Homo sapiens: one gene and its partners. The protein of the gene in region 2 interacts with the protein of the main gene of each other region in a pairwise test. Each region holds a gene or a part of one and is shown on either strand. Other genes may lie near its edges. The genes, in order: SLC13A4, SLC38A1 and AMIGO1.

Region 1 (3,750 bases), on a different chromosome or scaffold from region 2:
CCAGGCCTGTCTCAAACAGACCTGGGCTTAAGCGATTCTCCCACGTTGGTCTCCCAAAGTGCTGGGATTATAGGTGTGAGCCACCGCACCTGGCCTGCCAGTGCTTTTTGAAGACACAGATATGAAGGCATATTGACCGTCCTGAATTTATTCCACTAGCAACAGTTACACACATCCACTTAAATAAATGAACATTCTGGCTGGGTGAGGTAGCTCACACCTGTAATACCAGCACTTTAGGAGGCTGAGGAAGGTAGGTCACTTGAAGTCAGGAGTTTGAGACCAGCCTGGCCAATGTGGTGAAAGCCCACCTTTACTAAAAATACAAAAATTAGCTAGGTGTGGTGGCACGCGCCTGTAATCCCAGCTATTCAGGAGGCAGAGGCAGGAGAATTGCTTGAACCCGGGAGGCAGAGGTTGCAGTGAACCGAGATTGTGCCATTGCACTCCAGCCTGGGTGACAGAGTGAGACTCTGTCTCAAAAAAATAAAAAATAAATGAATAAATATTCCCACTTGGAATGATTCATTTGGTTGGAAGATGTTCACCTGCAAATAGGGAGGGCTACCTCCCTCTCCTAAAAAATGAAAGGTATCATTGAGTTTTGTATTAAAAACTCCAGGTTGCCATATGCATCCTGCCTCCCTTCCTCTCTCTCTTCTATGGTGACAGGCTCTGCCTTTTCCCATGGTACCCTAGAAACTGCGAATGCAATGACAATATGGAGAGCAGGGACAGAAAGGAAGGTGAGACATTTATGATTCCTCAAGCTCTTAAGTCCTGCTACACATGTTTTACTATTAAATACCGCCTTCCCTACACTGCCAGCATGTTACTTTTTCTCCTCTCTTCCAAATTCATCAAAAGCTCATTTCATCTCTACAGTACCCTGGCCACCTCCTGGCAAGCTCATAGACAACTGAGGACCAAAGGCCTTCAGAATTCTCTCTGTTGTAGCCACTTCACCTTGTAGAACTTTTCTTCCTTTTTTTCCTCTCAACTCACTGAGAGCTTACAAACCCAATATGTGCAGACTGCATCAATTAATGCTTGTTTCAGAGCCCCAAGGCCTCCAGGAACTCTTTAATTGTTCCCTCTGGTAACACATTAAACCTTGCTCATTGGACAGAGGCAGGGGAGGAACAGCAGTTAGTTGAATGGAAATGGTACATTATATAAAGAGATGGAGTTTTACTTAACGTTATCCAAATAGTACTGGTAAGTAAAGTGAAATAATTTTTTTTTTCTTTTTGAGACAGAGTTGTGCTCTGTCACCCAAGCTGGAGTGCAGTGGCACCATCTCAGCTCACTGCAACCTCTGCCTCCCGGGTCCAAATGATTCTCATGCCTCAGCCTCTTGGGTAGCTGGGATTACAGGCATGTGCCACCATCCCCGGCTAAATTTTTTTTTTTTTTTGAGAGGAAGTCTCACTCTGTCGCCCAGGCTGGAGTGCAGTGGTGCGATCTCGGCTCACCACAACCTCTGCCTCCCAGGTTCAAGCAATTCTCTGGCCTCAGCCTCCCAAGTAGCTGGGATTACAGGCGCGTGCCACCACACCCGGCTAATTTTTGTATTTTTAGTAGAGACGAGGTTTCACCATGTTGGCCAGGCTGGTCTCAAACTCCTGATCTCAGGTGATCCACCCACCTTGGCCTCCCCAAGTGCTGGGATTACAGGCATGATCCACTGTGCCCAGTCCCTGGAGTTTTGCTTTTGTCACCCAGGCTGGAATGCAGTGGCACGATCTCGGCTCACTGCAACCTCCTCCTCCTGGGTTCAAGTGATTCTCCTGCCTCAGCCTCCCAAGTAGCTGGGATTAAAAGTGTCCGCCACCACGCCTAACTAATTTTTGTATTTTTAGTAGAGACAACGTTTCACCATGTTGGCCAGGCTAGCCTCAAACTCCTGGCCTCAAGTGATCCTCCTGCCTCACCCTCCTTAAGTGCTGGGATTACAGGCGTGAGTCACCATGCCCGGCCTAGTAAAGTGAAATAATTTATTGGCAATTATTTTTCCAGCAGAACTATTTTATACTATGATTTGAAATAAATTAGACTTCAAAGTTAGACAAAAACACAATCAAAGGAAGTCTTAATTCTTTAAACTCTTGGTATGAAAACATTTTACAATGGATTTTCTTCACTAATGTCAAAACTGAAATTATTTCAAACTCTGTAGGAATCACATATATGCTACCTAAATTATTATTAAAATTAGTAGAGGCAGTAGGCTTTACAGAAATAACTGTACTATCTCTAATATGTGCACAATTTTGTTTTTATTGTTTTTTTTTTGTTTTTGTTCTTGTTTTTTGTTTTGGTGGCAGGGGATAGGGTCTCCCTCTGTCTCCCAGGCTGGAGTGCAATGGTGGGATCTTGGCTCACTGCAGCTTTGAACTCCTGGGCTCAAGCGATCCTCTCACTTCAACCTCCTGAGTAGCTGGGACTACAGGTACGCACCACCACACTGGGCTAACTTTTGTTTTTGTAGAGATAGGATCTTACTATGTTGCCCAGGCTAGTCTCAAACTCCTGGACTCAAGCAATCCTCCCGCCATGGCCTCCCAAAGTGCTGGGATTACAGACATGAGCCACTGTGCCCAGCCCAATTTTGGTTAAAAAAAAAAATAAAATCTTGCCAGGCCAATCTTGTCAGAGGCCAAAACTAACAACTGAAATTCAATAAAGATAAATATAAATATCCCGAACTTGGAATGAGAAATATTGATGGCATATATATAGGATGGGGTGAAGGTCCAGTAATGATGAACAGTTAAAAAGAATGAAGGGTTCTAATTGACTGCAGTTTTAATATAATTGTTGACATGAGTGCCAAGGATGCTTTATAAAAGCTTCCATAAAAATGCAGGGTGCTGCTTGAATCAGAGGTGAGAGATGGGGCTTGGGTAATATAACTACTCTACTTGGCAGTAGACTGACCACCCCATAGACTATGTTTGAATAAGGCCAAGTGTAGTGAGTCCTGAGGAGAGAGACCAGATGGTATGGGTCACTACTACTTGATTTTTTCATGTTAATAATTATTATCTAGGAGAGGGTCCCAGAGAACAGAGCTAGAGCCAACAGTGGACAGACAACATGCAGAAGACCTGAGCTGAAAATAAGGAACAATTATTCTTTGTTCCCTGCCCAGGGAGTACCTTGTCACTGGAAGTGTCCAAGCCAGAAGTGCCATGGAGGGGAATCTCACCATGGGCAGGAGATAGGACTCATTGTTTTCTAAGGTTCTCCTTAGTGGAGTATTCTGTGACCTTATTATTAATAATGCAGATAGTATTTTGGGCCATGAAAAGTGAACCAAGCCGGGCACAGTGGCTCATGCCTGTAATCCCAGTACTTTGGGAGGCCAAGGTGGGTGGATCACTTGAGGCCAGGAGTTCAAGACCAGCCTGGCCAACATGGTGAAACTCCATCTCTACTAAAAATACAAAAATTAAGCTGGGTGTGGTGGCGTGTGCTTGTGATCCCAGCTATTTGGGAGGCTGAGGCATGAGAATTGCTTGAACCTGGGAGGCAGGGGTTGCAGTGAGCAGAGATGGCGCCACTGCACTCCAGCCTAGGTGACAGAGTGAGACTCTGTCTCAAAAAAAAAAAAAAAAAAAAAAAAAAAGAGAACCAAGTTTAGCATGGGATAATGCATGTAGATGAGATGGAGGGAGAAATAGTCTGAACCTTAACCTAATTCATTCTTAAGATTGTTTTCTATTTTATGGAGGGCTAACACTTTAG
Region 2 (3,750 bases):
CTGTAACTGTAAAAAAGGAAAGTGGGTGGAGAGGTTTTTTTTTCCCCCTTTTTTCTTGTTTTCTAACCTCCCAGCTTATTCCTGGAGAGTTAAAACACAGTTACTAGCACTAAAAACATTAAAAGTGCTGCGCGCTGGCCTCAATGACTGGTACATTGGAGAAGCTATGCAGCAGCATCCTTTTCTGTGGTGGGCAGGGCAGGAGATGAACCATAGGAGCCAAAAGTCAGACAAACAGAAGAAGGCACACCAAGCCTGAACCCTCCGGACAACAGCAGAGTTACCAGCTGAGGGATGTCCCTGGAGGTTTCTGACCCATGAGAGGCCCCCTCACCCTCCTTCACCCTCCTCCTACCACCAAGCTCTCCAGCAGTCATGGACTTATTCCTCCCCGTTTTTACTGGACACCATGTTTCAGGCCAATCTGGTCACCTGTAGTCTGGTGGCATCTCTACCCCTACTGTCCAGTAGGTGGGATGTGGCTGGGATGGACAGTCCAGATTCTACTAACAGGCAACTCTGAACAAACACCCTCCCTGGAAACAATATTATATTTGATGGTTAGATTCTTTAGCAAACCTATTACATTATTCGATGTCAGCTAACCTATTGGTTTGATCATCTTTTCCAGCTGCTCTAGGGGCCTAACCACCATGGATAACCTGGTCTCTAAAGGAAAATACATTCCAGGTTGCAAACAACCAACTGACAACCTTTTGGAATATGATCTCCTTATACACTGGGGCTGCCTGTGCCTAAACACAGTAGATTTCCCTCCTGTGCGTATTTCATCAGCCCCACTTCCAATAAGTAACATTAAGTAAATTAGGGATTGACAGTATTCTGTGTTACAATAACTAGAGAACAGTTCTAAGTCCAAAGTGTGGAACTGGCACTGTTCACTAGTATAGAGATCCTACCTACCAAAGGAAAACGTGCTGCTCCCCATGCCTAGGGTATAGTATTCTTTAATCTACTAATTTAGCAGAAAAACTTCCATAGCACTTGACTGTGCTGTTTAAATTCGACCTAACATCTGTGATACATGTATTTTTGGCTACCAATTAACTATTCTGAATAAGAATAAGAGCAGTATACTTTACAGCTAATCTCACACAAAGGATGTAACTAATCAGTGATATTTGACGAATTATGGTAGGGTCTATTATATTCAGTCAACAACAAATTTAGAGAAACATACAAAGGTTTTTAAAAATATGGGTGGTGTCACACAGATCAACAACACTGTGCCTCCTCTAAATAAATCTATTTTAAATAAATATTCCTTGTATTGACACATGAAACCCAGAGGCCCAAAAATATCACTACACATCCCAGTTAATGATAAGGTTCTAAATTGACTTTGTGAGGGTAAAATGAATTGCTATAAAGTAACAAGGAAAATAGAAAGTAGCATAATATAGCTTGCAAACTAAATTATGTATTTTTAAAGGTACAGTCATCCCACTACCTGGCTATTTCATTACTTGGTGCTCTAGACAAGCTCCCAAGAACTGACTGGATCTTGGCTTGTTCTGTTTCTGTCATTGCTAATATAATATGGAAAACATTGCTGAAAAGAACAGAGATGGCCATGGATATGGCTAGGTTAGGTATTCATATCCAAATATCTGAACTCTAACCTAATGTGGATATGATTCTGTAGCATTATATTAAAAGCTATGATGATGCAATGCAGGAAATAACCTTTCATTCTCCCCCCTAGAGGATCACGACAGGTGCTTCAATGCCTGCCTTATCTATGGGACAGTAGTGTGATTCTCAGTGAGAGTGAAGGCCTTTGGGGATTTGAGTCAGGAAGGGAACATGGCTAAGTGCCTGGAAACTCTGCCAACAGTCTGCGGTTAGATTCTACTTGTCTCTGGATAAGAAATCTGTGCTCAGTGAACTTATGTGTTTGGAAAATTTAACCAGAATATAGAGGAAGCATAAGTCCTGTTTCAAGAGACCAGCTCACGGAGCATGCACATTTCTCACCATAGGCAAGCTATGGACAATTCAATCACATGGGATGGCCCCACTTAGGGGAATGCAGTTCTGGGTTTCCTTGCTATCCCTATTCTTTTTCAGCTACAAACTCTCTTCTTTTTCAGTCTCTTCAGTTTCCTTGTGCTCCCTTTAGGAGAGGGACAAGGGTAAGAGTACCAGGCAACTCTGTCCTCCTGCATGGACAGTTGAGACGGGCAGTAATGGCACAGTCCTTGGTTGGGGAAGAGAAGAGGAGACAGCACAGACACTGAGACCCCCTTGTCTTCCTCATCTGGGGGAAGGAAGGTACTCAGTGATTCTGTCAGAAGCTCTTCACAAAGACTATCTCTGAGGGTTTTTTTTTTTTTTTTTTCACAAGACTAGATGGAGAATTAATGAAGAAGAAATAGAAATGAGGCTTATTTAAGGTACAAAATTCTTGTATTTGTAATAACCTAGATTTATAGATATAAAACAAGTCTTTTAAAGACTTCCCTAAAATACTCAATATAAAACAGGAGTTACTTATCCTAGATCATCCTTAGTTAGGTACACATGATTCTCTGTGCAACTAGCTGGTGGACATGAATAAAAGCTGCTGGGCCTATAATGTACTAAAACATTTTTCTCCCTTCAGCAAGACAGGTAGGGTTGAAGGCTAAATGCATCAGAGGAGTATTTTCTTAGGCATTTTGGACAATCTTTTTGCAGTAGGTTCCATAGGTTTTCCCCAGCGAAAGTTGACTCAGACCAGAGTAACTCTGACACAAGTTGCCAAGAGGGAAAAAATACTTCATTTGCTAGATTACCCAAATGTGTAGCTTCATTTAATTACCAAGGTAAGAATCATCCCCAACCACTTTTCAGCTGAGAACACTTGCCAGAGAATGTCTCTGGATGGGAATAGATGTGGTACCAGCTAGGCCACTGGACTACCCGAGTTCAGCTGCCAGGAAATCAGAGCCACCTCAAATATTGGGCATGCTCTGATTCAGCAGTGGCAGTGCCCTATAACTTTCAGATGATTATCTCCATGTGCTATGTTAACCAAAATAGGCAAATTATTTACGAAACCATTTTTTTCTGTAAAGCAAAATAAATATATACAATTCAAGATTCTTTTCTCTTCTAAAAAGGTACAGATAGTGTGAGCTGAACATCAGTAGGAAAATTATTTCAGAATCTGGATGTATAATAAATAAACATTATTGTATATCATGTTTTCAAAGTTCTAAGAGACCGGGAAGCCACAAAACATAGAGTTAGATGGGTAAAAAATGATTGTGAAAAGTACTGGGAAATATGATTGTATGAAATTTGAAAAAAAAATTTCACAATCCCTAAATTGATCTCAAATCTTGGAGGGACATGAAGCATTATAGAACCATGTCTCTGTTTTGCAACCAAAAAGTTATTCCATTTTAAGTATCCTGTACATTTCTGTTTGCTTCTGTAAACTTGCAAAAGAAGTGGTGAGAGATTGCTGATGTGTGGGGACTTGACTGAGCAGACAACAGGGATGTTTCTTTTTCTCGGCGGGTTTCAGTGGCCTTCGTCACTACTCGATGAGCAGGCCCAGTCATAGATGACCAAGGGAATGCTGACCAAGGAGAACAACACCCCCAGGCCCAAGAAAAGGGCAGCCTGGAGCAAGAGAAAGGCAAGGGTTATTTTCAGTGCAGCAAAATTTTTCCACATGTACCTGGGGAAAAAAAATAGAACAGTTTTTCCTCTCCCTTTGTGTCCTCTGGTATTCAGAGT
Region 3 (3,750 bases), on a different chromosome or scaffold from region 2:
CTTTCTTTCTTTCTTTCTTTCTTTCTTTCTTTCTTTCTTTTTTTTTTTTTTTTTTGAGACAGGATCTTGCTCTGTCACCCAGGCTGGAATGCAGTGACACAAACATGGCTCACTGCAGCCTTGACCTCCAGGGCTCAAGTGATCCTCCGACCTCAGCCTCTCAAGTAGTGGGCACCACAGGTGCGTGCCACCATGCCTTTTTTTTTTTTAAGAGACAGAGTCTCACCATGTTGCCCAGGCTGCTCTCGAACTCCTGGGTTCAAGCAATCCTCCTGCCGCAGCCTCCCAAAGTGCTGGGATTACAGGTGTGAGCCACTGCACCTTGCAGAAAGACCTTTTCACACTATGCATAAGATTAACACGCTAATACTCCTTGAAGAGATAATATATTCACTAAAATTCATGGTAAAACATGTGACAGATATAAATTCTTTTTAAAACTCTTAGCAAGCTAATCTACTGAGACATTAATTTCAGTCTTGATCTTGCTGTTATAAGAGACTGGAACAAATAAAAAGGTAATTTCTTATGGTCCACCATCTCAAGAACAGCTAACATCTTGAATGATAAGGTCTAGGCTCTTCCTGCATCTCTCTCTTTCCTCACCCCCAAACCCAAACAACATACACTAGTAACAGCTTCTTGTTGTTTCAGGGGCCACCCTAAAGAAGAAACCCCTCCACCTCCACCACTGGCCTTCATCTTGAGGATTAGGTAACAGAGAAACTATGTTGCAATTGCTCCATAAGGGGAGTGGGGAGCTGGCACTGGTTTAGGAAGAAGGCAAGTGGCCAGACCTAAGGGCTGAATGACTTCCTCCGGGCTGGGAAGGGTTTCGGAGTTTCCAGGAATGGAAATTGTCCCTGGCTTGTATGCAGTCCGTGTGTGTGTGTGTGTGTGTGTGTGTGTGTGTGTGTGTGTGTGTAGCAGGTGGAGTGGGGAGAGGTGCATGAGGTGTCTGTAAAGGGGTGTTCTGGGGCCTGGGCTCACCAAACACCCCCTTTCCCCTCACTCCTGCGCAGCTGGCTTGCAGGCTAAGGAGCTGTGCCCTTCAGTGGTACCTCAAGGGTCATGAACTAGTAGCATCAAGACGGGGGTGGGGTGGGGGGAACCCCTCCCCCAATTTTTGAGACCCCACAGCCACAGAGAGAAGGGAGGGGGAACCTCAGAATGTGACTAATGAATTTCCCGCCAACATTGGCAGGCGGGAGCTGAGCCAGATTTCTTCAATTTGCGAAATTAAAAGACATGTGACGCCTCTTGCCCGAGTAGGTGCAGCGAATTCACTTTAGTTAGACTTTTCCTGAGAGCCGGTCTGTGTAGCGAGAAGGGTGCTGGGAGATGGGGGAATGGGGGATGGAGGAAGTTATAGCGGAGCCTAAGGGGCCAGTGCCGCTCTTCCTGCCAATTTTCGTCTTTAGCTCAGCGTCCGGAGCTCGCTGGTTGAGGGAACGACCCCGCGCGCGTCCGCCCGGCCGGCTCCGACACAAACACACGCACGTGCGCCCCGCCCCCGCCGCGCGCACGCGCCCCGAGGCTCCGGCGGCGGCGACGGGCGCGCGCGCGGTGCTCGCTGCCCCCACGCCGCTCCCTCCGCTGGGATCGCTGCGCCTCCGGCTCCCCGCACCGATCCGCGCCAGGCCTGCGGACCTGGAGGCAGCGACCGCGGTCGGTGGGCTCCGGCGGGCTCAGCGGTCGAGGCGGTGGCAGGGTGAGCGGAGCGGGGCCCCGCAAGTCCCCGGGAGGCGACGGTGCCGGGCGCGGGCCCCTGCGTAAGGTGGGCGCAGTGACAGGCCGGCCGGTGAGGCGCCGCCGGGAGAGGCCGCGACGGAGCTCCCAGACCGGCCATGGGCTGAGACACGTCCTCGCCGAGCAGGTGCAGTGACCGGAGGCCCCGGGGGGAGCCCGCCCCTACAGGCCCCGGGGACCCTCAACCCCGACCGGACGCGTCCTACCCAGCCCGGTGCCCTGTTGACCTTCCCTCAGCTCCTCCCAAAAGGCACACCGACCCCACCTCCAAACCCTGCCCGTGCCATCCCTGTGACTCCCAGCAGTCCCTGCCATCCTGTGCATACCTGCAGCCTGCACCCCTGTGACCCCAGCCCAGTAGGCCCTCGGGCCACCTCCTCTTCGGCCGATATTTACAGCCCACTGCCTGCACAGTGCCTGGAAACTACCCAGCATCTCTCTCTCCTAGCCCAAAGGGGGTGGAGGTAAGGGTGGGAGGGGAAGTGGGAGAGGGTGTCCTTCCCTCTGGAGTCCTTGGTGACCACAAACCCATCCTCTTTCTCTCAAGTGACCCTTCCGTACCCCACCAGAACATGCCCGGGTGACCTCCTCCCAGATCTTCCTTGTGGCCTTCCTCGCCCACTCCAGTGACACTATGCACCCCCACCGTGACCCGAGAGGCCTCTGGCTCCTGCTGCCGTCCTTGTCCCTGCTGCTTTTTGAGGTGGCCAGAGCTGGCCGAGCCGTGGTTAGCTGTCCTGCCGCCTGCTTGTGCGCCAGCAACATCCTCAGCTGCTCCAAGCAGCAGCTGCCCAATGTGCCCCATTCCTTGCCCAGTTACACAGCACTACTGGACCTCAGTCACAACAACCTGAGCCGCCTGCGGGCCGAGTGGACCCCCACGCGCCTGACCCAACTGCACTCCCTGCTGCTGAGCCACAACCACCTGAACTTCATCTCCTCTGAGGCCTTTTCCCCGGTACCCAACCTGCGCTACCTGGACCTCTCCTCCAACCAGCTGCGTACACTGGATGAGTTCCTGTTCAGTGACCTGCAAGTACTGGAGGTGCTGCTGCTCTACAATAACCACATCATGGCGGTGGACCGGTGCGCCTTCGATGACATGGCCCAGCTGCAGAAACTCTACTTGAGCCAGAACCAGATCTCTCGCTTCCCTCTGGAACTGGTCAAGGAAGGAGCCAAGCTACCCAAACTAACGCTCCTGGATCTCTCTTCTAACAAGCTGAAGAACTTGCCATTGCCTGACCTGCAGAAGCTGCCGGCCTGGATCAAGAATGGGCTGTACCTACATAACAACCCCCTGAACTGCGACTGTGAGCTCTACCAGCTGTTTTCACACTGGCAGTATCGGCAGCTGAGCTCCGTGATGGACTTTCAAGAGGATCTGTACTGCATGAACTCCAAGAAGCTGCACAATGTCTTCAACCTGAGTTTCCTCAACTGTGGCGAGTACAAGGAGCGTGCCTGGGAGGCCCACCTGGGTGACACCTTGATCATCAAGTGTGACACCAAGCAGCAAGGGATGACCAAGGTGTGGGTGACACCAAGTAATGAACGGGTGCTAGATGAGGTGACCAATGGCACAGTGAGTGTGTCTAAGGATGGCAGTCTTCTTTTCCAGCAGGTGCAGGTCGAGGACGGTGGTGTGTATACCTGCTATGCCATGGGAGAGACTTTCAATGAGACACTGTCTGTGGAATTGAAAGTGCACAATTTCACCTTGCACGGACACCATGACACCCTCAACACAGCCTATACCACCCTAGTGGGCTGTATCCTTAGTGTGGTCCTGGTCCTCATATACCTATACCTCACCCCTTGCCGCTGCTGGTGCCGGGGTGTAGAGAAGCCTTCCAGCCATCAAGGAGACAGCCTCAGCTCTTCCATGCTTAGTACCACACCCAACCATGATCCTATGGCTGGTGGGGACAAAGATGATGGTTTTGACCGGCGGGTGGCTTTCCTGGAACCTGCTGGACCTGGGCAGGGTCAAAACGGCAA

The links.
Region 1: the proteins of SLC38A1 (region 2) and SLC13A4 interact in binary tests that used the Homo sapiens proteins (3 or more experiments, as listed by UniProt).
Region 3: the proteins of SLC38A1 (region 2) and AMIGO1 interact in binary tests that used the Homo sapiens proteins (3 or more experiments, as listed by UniProt).

What each region holds. Positions count from the first base shown.
Region 1 is NC_000007.14:135,686,577-135,690,326, forward strand, and holds part of SLC13A4 (solute carrier family 13 member 4), read right to left. Parts: intron 2,453-3,750; exon of another isoform or gene 2,328-2,452; intron 747-2,327; exon of another isoform or gene 435-746; intron 1-434. UniProt on the Homo sapiens protein: Sodium:sulfate symporter that mediates sulfate reabsorption in the high endothelial venules (HEV).
Region 2 is NC_000012.12:46,185,439-46,189,188, forward strand, and holds part of SLC38A1 (sodium-coupled neutral amino acid symporter 1), read right to left. Parts: intron 3,634-3,750; coding exon 3,532-3,633; 3' UTR 1-3,531. UniProt on the Homo sapiens protein: Symporter that cotransports short-chain neutral amino acids and sodium ions from the extraccellular to the intracellular side of the cell membrane. The transport is elctrogenic, pH dependent and driven by the Na(+) electrochemical gradient.
Region 3 is NC_000001.11:109,507,546-109,511,295, reverse strand, and holds the start of AMIGO1 (amphoterin-induced protein 1 precursor), read left to right. Parts: upstream 1-1,568; 5' UTR 1,569-1,876; intron 1,877-2,296; 5' UTR 2,297-2,383; coding exon 2,384-3,750. UniProt on the Homo sapiens protein: Promotes growth and fasciculation of neurites from cultured hippocampal neurons. May be involved in fasciculation as well as myelination of developing neural axons. May have a role in regeneration as well as neural plasticity in the adult nervous system.